Linked DNA regions of Homo sapiens: region 2 is reported to be linked to region 1. The links are microRNA targets in miRTarBase. Many come from high-throughput screens and were not tested one by one. Region 1 holds a microRNA gene; the other region holds the end of a gene's coding sequence.
What was found. Region 1 holds the annotated microRNA hsa-miR-4430 (AGGCUGGAGUGAGCGGAG, at 1,532-1,549, shown strand). A microRNA usually pairs through its seed, bases 2 to 8, with sites in the 3' UTR of a target mRNA and lowers its output. Matches are read on the target gene's strand: a 7mer-m8 pairs with bases 2 to 8, a 7mer-A1 pairs with bases 2 to 7 and ends in A, and an 8mer does both.

Region 1 (4,416 bases):
ACCTCAGTACAAAATTTTACCTTTGCTCCTATTAATTTCTCTTCTGTTGTTGGTCCCTTTCTTTAGCCTTATGTTAAGATGTTTTGAGATTCTGATTCTGACTTCCAGTATGGTTGCTGTCTCTTCCAAGTTGACATACACTCTCCATCTTTATTCAAGATATTAATGTAACTATTAAGAAGGATATCTCTTTAAGACAAAAAAAAAGTGCAATACAAAAAAACAACTTCCTTTTGCTGAGTTGCTGAGCCCCTTGTGAGGCTGACAATGGCAGGATGGTTTAGTCTGTCGTCTCCAGAGGGTTTCCTGCCAGGGGACTTCTGGATTTCAGGATCGGCCAACATGAGTCAAACAGCTCTTGGAGCTCTTTATTCTCAAACCTTCTCTGCAAATCAGAGCTGGAGATTTCAGGATTCCCTCCCCACATTCCTCATGACCAGTACCGCTCCCTATTTTCTCAATTTTTCATGAGTCCCTTCAAAGAGAAATAATTTAAATAAAAAGTCTTTCCCAGATTTACCTTTTGCTGATTTTCCATTTTTCCCAACTAGGCAACAAGACTTCATTTTGTTCACTGATGTGTCACACAGAGTATTTCAAATAGTTTGAAGCCAGAAGAAGCAAAAAGGGAAGATGCTAAGAGGTCACCAGGGCCGGGCGTGGTGGCTCATGCCTGTAATCCCAGCACTTTGGGAGGCCGAGGCGGGCGGATCACTTGAGGTCAGGAGTTCAAGACCAGCCTGGCCAACATGGTGAAACCCTGTCTCTACTAAAAATACAAAAATTAGCCGGGTGTGGTGGTGGGCGCCTGCAATCCCAGCTACTCAGGAGGCTGAGGCAGGAGAATCGCTTGAACCTAGGAGGCAGAGGTTGCAGTGAGCCGAGATCACACCACTGCACTCCAGCCTGAGCGACAGAGTGAGACTCCATCTCAAAAAAAAAGAAAAAAGAAAAGGCAACCAGGTTTCTGTTTTGGGGGGCTACATTGAAGAAATCCAGTGTTTCCTACCTGCTTTCCATGGTGGCGGCGGGGGGGAAATCTGAATGAAAAAAGAGATTAGATCCATCCTTGAGCATGGTGGGTTTGAGGTGCCTGGAAACATCTACACAGAGATGCTGAAAGTCCATGAAACTGACTAGTCTGAAGCTGAGAAGGCGGACTGGCTTAGTGCTCTGCAATGTGCAGATAGAATATCTATGGATACTGAGTCAGGGCTCTCACAGTGTTGGTCTCAAGGCAATCCTGGTCCTTAGAATAGACATGGAAAAAGGCACAAGGCAGAAAAGGCCCTCTTTCTTTCCATGTCTATCTCCCTCTATGATCATAGACAACATGCGTTAAAAATCATATTATAAGCTGCTCTTAGAACTTGATCGCTTCAGCTCACAAGTTCAAGGCAAGTCTCGGCAACATAGCAAGACCCCATCTGTACGAAACATTTTAAAAATTAGCCAAGCATGGTGGCATGTGACTGTCATCCCAGTTACCCGGGAGGCTGAGGTGGAAGGATCACCTAAGCCCAGGAGGGTGAGGCTGGAGTGAGCGGAGATCGTACCACTGCACTCCAACCTGGTGACAAAGGGAGACCTTGTCTCAAAAAAACAAAACGACTCCCACCTCCAATAAAAAACCCTCATCAACCCCAAATCTAGACAAGTAATGTCCACTTTTGCCTGAGATTTTTTTTTTTTTTTTTTTTTGAGGCAGAATCTCGCTTTGTCGCCCAGGCTTGAGTGCGGTGGCACGATCTCGGCTCACTGCAACCTCCACCTCCCAGGTTCAAGTGATTCTCCTGCCTCAGCCTCCCGAGTAGCTGGGACTACAGGCGCATGCCACCATGCCTGGCTAATTTTTTGTATTTTTAGTAGAGACAGAGTTTTACCATGTTAGCCAGGATGGTCTCAACCTCCTGACCTCACGATCTGCCCACCTTGGCCTCCCAAAGTGCTGGGATTACAGGCGTGAGCCACCGCGCCTGGCCTTGCCTGAGGTTTTTAAATCAGCTTTACCCATCCTACTGACTGGGGGAGGGTAGCGGGTAGGTGGATGGGTTGATAATTTCCACCTCCATAGCAATCACCCTAAGCCTTCTATCTTGTTCCAGTCCTACTCTTATTTTGCTTATGTCTCTGCCCACCTTCAACCTCCTAACTTTGTGGTCACTCTTTCAAATTCTGTCTGTGGTCTTTGCATTTGGTATTTGAACTTGATCTCCCTGCTATTTGAACCTTCAGTTACCCCCAACCTCAGTTACCATCATAGATTTTTCTTTGGAAGAAATACCTTTTATTAGTCAGGATCCATTCAGCAGACAGAAGCCACACCAGGTAAAGGAAAAGGAAAATTTTAATATGAAGAATTGCAACTAGGTAAAAAGCCATTAGCTAGGTAACTGAGAAGGGAAAAAAGATCTCTAAAGTATCACAGAGGTAAGTGGCAACTGCAGTCATCAGCTACCACCCTTTCAACTGAGGGAAAAGAGGGAAGAGATTGGAATTATTAAACTTGGAAACGTAGAGTAGGAGTCTTGGAGACTCAAATTTTCTGAGGAGTTGGTACTGGCTGGCTGGGGTTAATGTCTCTGAGTGGGTACAAAGGAGCGTGTTTTATAAATGGGACAAAATTGAAAAGCAGATTCAGCTGCTGCTGTGAGAAGGCCGTGCCTCTGCCCATTTGAAGAAGCTTTGCTCAGGTGACATCACAGGAATAAGAAGTAGACAGGAGGCAGCAAATTCTCTCTTCTTCCTCCAGCCTTGCAGGCTCCCTCTACCACCCCCTAAAGAGCCTGAAAGGTATCTGGCTGGAAAAATAGAAATGTCGTTTGCAGTTTCTGTCCCAGCAACCCAAAGCGAGGTATAGAAGTGTATTTGAATTTGAAAGATAATAATGCTGTAAGGTCACTGTTTCTGACCTTAGCCAGCTCCCACTCCTCCCCAGCTAATTACTTCCCACTCCTGCCTCCAGTAGAGAATGACATATTTACCATTCATTTCCCACTGTGTTCTCCAAGTCTCTGCCCTTGCCCTGGCAATTGTAAGCAAATTGTTACTATCACTTTCCTTTCCTGATTCCACATTACTGCATGAGTAAGTTACAGTGCTCTTCAAGCAGGAGTCCACCTTGCTCTTTCAGCATGGTGAAGACAGATGATCTGCCTTACAAGCAGCTGCAGATCTTTTCCTTACCTCGAATCCTTTCTTCAGAGAAATTTGGAGGTAATTCCGAGTTTCTCTTGGGCTCCCTTCAGCAGCTTCATTTACTCAGGCTGTGGTCTTGTTATTTAATGTTGCATAGCAAATCACCCTAAATTGTAAAGGCTTGAAACGAGAACAAGCAGTTGTTGTCTTTTATGGTTTCAAGGCATCGGAAATTAGGAAGCAGGTTGGCTGAGCTGGGTTGAGGTCTCTCATGAGGCTGTAGTCACGTGGTGGATGAGGCTGGGGTCATCTTGAAAGCTCTGGCACCTGGGCCGGGAAGACTCAAGAAGCTGGGGATAGGAACAACTGGGGCTCCTTAGGTATCTGTCTACTTATTTAGACTCTCCAAGTGGTCCTTTTCAGAGTATCTTGATTTGTACATGGAAGCCCATGCCCCACAGAGCAGTTCTCCCCAGAGAAGCCAGGAGAAGCTGTATGTCTAACTTCACTCAGAATTATCCTCACTTCTGCCACATTCTGTTCATCAAGGCGGTTACAAAAGCCCACCCAAGTTCAACAGGAGGGAACATAAACTCTACTATTTGATGGGAAGAGTGTCAAAGAATTTGCAAGCACTTTGAAAACCACAAGCGGCACCTCTGGCTTAGGGTTTGTGGGAAACTCTGAACCATTGTTTTTCTCATATCTAGAATTATACTCTTTCAAACAGGCAGGATTCCTGACTATACTATGTGGCATGCTCTCCTTCCTGCACATGAATATGTAAAACAATAGAAAGAAGGGACATTCAGCCTGGACACTACAGTCCTCATGCTGGTCCAGGATCAGAGATACAATCATCGGTGCTTCCTGACTGGTCCCAGGAAGACCTTTTAGGATTGTTGCCTGAAGAGTTAATTTCCATGTCAAATCTACAAAGCTCTGGGGCAGACCGCAAGCCACTGCAGCTGGTTATATTCGCCACTCTCTGCTGGCACCTCCAGGAGGGCACATAACTGTCCATGTATTATGCTGGGGCATATCACATCAAATATGGGGTCTGGCCTGAGCAGCAAACATCCACTACTGGGAAAATGAGGCTGATCAGGCTCCATTCATGAAGATCAGAGCAACTGGTGCCTTCCTACAGGTTTGAGCCATGATAGAATTAGAGGTATGAGTGGTAGCACCAGATTTCTGTATATGGCTTGGGAGTAACAAGTGGGTTGGGAAGGGGAGCTAAGGAGTTTGCCTGGAAGCTGCTTTCATATAACACAA
Region 2 (4,000 bases), not on the chromosome of region 1:
AAGACAGCTATGAACGTGAATGATCTCTTCCTGGCAATAGGTAAGGTCAGAACATCCTGAGGTCCTCCTTTTTCCCTCGTTTATAGGCAAAATTATAGCTAACCCAAATCAAGGATAGGTGCGAGTATCTCCTTTTGCAAAAACTTTAGGTATGGAAATACCTTAACTTTCTGTTATGACCTCCATCCTTGGCTGCAGCTTTAGCTCCCTTGTCTTCAATGTGTAAGTTTGCCGGCCAGGTGTGGTGGCTAACACCTGTAATCCCAGCATTTTGGGAGGCCGAGGCGGGCGGATCACGAGGTCAAGAGATCAAGACCATCCTGGCCAATGTGGTGAAACCCCGTCTCTACTAAAAATACAAAAATTAGCTGGGCGTGGTGGCGCACACCTGTAGTCCCAGCTACTTGGGAGGCTGAGCCAGGATAATCACTTGAACCCGGGAGGTGGAGGTTGCAGTGAGCCGAGATTGTGCCACTGCACTCCATCCTGGCAACAGAGCGAGACTCCATCTCAAAAAAAAAAAAAAAGTTTGCAAATAGTGAACCCTCCCATCTTCAGAACATTCTTTTAATCTCTCAAATTCTCCCTTTTCCCCAATTCAGTAGCCGTTTTTGGCGGGTGGAGGCAGAGGGGTAGGGAAGTAAAGTCTACCATACTTTGTTCTCTTCTCTTTTTATCTCTAGCTAAGAAGTTGCCAAAGAGTGAACCCCAGAATCTGGGAGGTGCAGCAGGCCGAAGCCGGGGTGTGGATCTCCATGAACAGTCCCAGCAGAACAAGAGCCAGTGTTGTAGCAACTGAGGGGGTGGCTAGCAGCAAACAAGTATGGAGCTAGCACAAGAGCTAAGAAATAACCTCCATCCCTACCCCTCAGCACACAACCCCTACGGTAACAGCACACTGAGCCCTGGCTCCCAAGGGCTGCCTCCTGACAGCTCCGTCATGGCACTTTTTAACGCTTCAGCAACAAACACCAGGCAGCTGTTGCCACTGGCCTCCTACCCCCTACTCTGGGGCTTGGGGGTCAACTCCCCCCAGGACTTACCTTCCAAAACAAACTTTCTTCACTTTGTATTATAGGTACAAGACAGCGACTTACGTATCTTTTCTCCTCCTCCCTAGTGTTCCTCCCCATTTTTTCAGAAAACACTTCTGACTCCTGTCCCTTCCCCTTCTGCTTTTGGTCAGTCCCTGTTCTTGAGCCTCTTTTCTCCTCTCCCCAGGATGCAGAAAGTGGTGAACCCAGGAACTGAGGAAGGAGGTTTCCAGTTCATTTACATTAAGGGCCCTGGGGGAGAATAAAGCTCAGAGCAGGAGGGAGTAAGGAAACATTTCCTTTTTGTTTTTATTTGGTTGGAGTTTCTCATATTTGAAAACATTGCGGTATCCATGATTTGGCCTTGTGGAGGGTGTTCCTAGGTAGAGGTGAGAATGGGGAGGCAAGATCTCAGGCACCAGGCAGGAGGTGCCTTGTAAGCTAACTGGGCGGAGGTGGAGGTGCAGTGTCAACTGTGGCTCTGTAACTCTTCAAAGGCCCAGTTTCCCCTCACGCAGCCTCTTAGGTAGCGTTTCCCCTAATCGTGGGGGTTGGACCCCAGAGTCTTCCAAAGAATTTTCACTGGTTGCCTGCATCTTTGGCTCTGCTGTGATCTGATTGGAGGAGGGACAGTTTCTGGTACCCATCCTCTGATTTATACATATGCATTTTTTCCCCTCTGGCCTTTAGATGGCCTCAGCCCCAGCCACCATATACCCCTGCAGTTTGCACTTTAATTGATGGTAGTTCAGTTGGGGTACTTGTTTTATGGAAGTTTTGATTGATTTACTTGCCCTCCCACCTTCTTTTTAATTCAATGAAATCTGAGGTTAATGCGAGGTTCGAGGAGAGGTTATAGATAAAACTACCAGTGGCAGCTACTCAAGTCCTATCTCCACTGTTAGCTTCCTCCAACTCTAATTATTAACCTATATTCTTGCCAAGCTAACTATTGACTATAGGTTTGCCTTTCCTGGAGAATTAATTGAGCAATTGAGGAGTGTCTCAGGATAGCACAGGCCAAGGTAGGGGAGTAAAAAGGAGGTCAGGCAAAAGGGAGGAGTTTTCTGTCCTTTCCCAGGTTTCACACTCAATTTGATATCCATTACCATGTCTTTTCTACTTCCTTGTAAATAGGTATGATCTTTATTCCCACTGTACAGTCTGTTCTATCCTCTGCCTCCCATCAGGCCCTGTTTCTTTGTTCCTTTGTTAATATCTTGAATTTAGTCCCTCCATCCTTAATCCCCCCATCCCTCCCCATCATGCAACCAGTGGTTTAATCCATGTACCAATAGGGGCTAGTACCACAGAGGCCTCCTGTGGTGCCCTCGTATCATACCACCTGTTCCTGTGGAGAGGGAATGACCGGCACTGAAGGTACCTTACAACTGGCTCATATTATCAGAGGACCTTGGTCCTTTCTAAATCTCTAGTCTCTCTTCATATCCTTCATCAGGTGTTTTAAGATGTCTCTGAGAAGCCATCAAGGCAAAAGAGAACTTTAAGTTCCTTGTTCCAGCCCGGAGTTTTGGGAAAGAAAGAAAGGAAAGGTCACAGTGACCTAGGATTGGAACCTTCCTGCCCTTTTGGCTTGCAGACTGCCTTCTATCCCAGAACAGCTGAGAAATCTATGAAGCTGAGATTCTGAAGGACCCAGCTTAGGTTCTTCCACTTAGGCCTCAATTCCCTTCCTTTTCCAGGGGCAGCCTTAGTTCCCATGGCCCTGAAACACACACATTTCCCCCTTCCTTTCCCAGAAGCCACTGGCCCCCCATAGCACCCAGTGCATCCTTTTTACAAGTGGAAGAACTAGGATGGCTTTCCAAAGTCTTCTAGAAATGAAGTTCTTTCTCTGTGCAGCTTTCCCCCTTGGAGCAGGAGTGAAGATGTTTCATTATCTTGGGCCTGGGAAACCACTTCCCCAGGCTTCTCCCTCCCCCCACCCCCATAGGAACAGGATTTGGCCTTAGCTTCTGGGCCTATCGGCTGCCTTCCCTCTACTTCCTACCACCTCTTCTGCCTTCCTTTGAGCTCTGTTGGGCTTGGGGATCTTAGTTTTCTTTTGTTTATTTCCCAGCTCATTTTTTTCTTCTGGTCAGTTTTTTTAAGGGGGGGTGTTGTGGTTTTTTGTTTTTGTTTTGCTTCTGAGAAAGCATTTGCCTTTCTTCCTCTCCCAACATAACAATCGTGGTAACAGAATGCGACTGCTGATTTACCGATGTATTTAATGTAAGTAAAAAAAGGAAAAAAAGAAAAGGGCATTGGAGTGTTGCTTTTTTTTATTTTATTGTTATTATTATTATTATTTTTGCTATTTGTCAGGTACTAGGAATTTGGAAGAAAGGATACCCAGTAATGTTCTACTGAATCAGAAACACACCTTTCCCTGCATCTTGATACATCTTTATTCCCTTTAATCTTTTCTTAAACATCTAGTTTAGAAAATAGCCCTTCTATTGCTATTTAATCACCCCTCTTCTAAGGCCACTAGATTGTTCATCAAATCAAACCCTATTATATCTTTTTAGGCCCTCTTAACAGAATGTATATGTGTAGGGTATGGTCTGTGGATCTTTGGGCCCACTGATCAGATTAGAGAGAGGGGTGCTATTTGAAGTAGTATACAAAAATGTATGTGCATATTTCTTTTTTTTTTTTTAATTGAGACGGAGTCTCTGTCGCTAGCCTGGAGTACAGTGGCACGATCTTGGCTCACAGCAATCTCCGCCTCCTGAGTTCAAGTGATTCTCCTGCCTCAGCCTCCTGAGTAGCTAGGATTACAGGCACGCACCAACACACCCAGCTAATTTTTGTATTTTTAGTAGAGACGGGGTTTCACCATGTTGGTCAGGCTGGTCTTGAACTCCTGACCTCGTGATCCACCCACCTTGGCCTCCCAAAGTGCTGGGATTACGGGCGTGAGCCACTGCGCCCGGCCGTATGTGCATATTTCTAGGATCCAT

Region 2: miRTarBase lists RAB5B as a target of hsa-miR-4430. Seed matches in the 3' UTR shown: 7mer-A1 at 1,737-1,743 and 7mer-m8 at 2,552-2,558.

What each region holds. Positions count from the first base shown.
Region 1 is chr2:33,416,988-33,421,403 of GRCh38, forward strand. MIR4430 (microRNA 4430) reads left to right here and starts at 1,529; the gene lies at 1,529-1,577.
Region 2 is chr12:55,991,414-55,995,413 of GRCh38, forward strand. RAB5B (RAB5B, member RAS oncogene family) reads left to right here. Exons shown (of 6, transcript NM_002868.4): 5 at 1-40; 6 at 684-4,000. The coding sequence ends at 799. Among named protein-coding and RNA genes, the nearest start is that of SUOX, 3.9 kb to the right of the region's middle.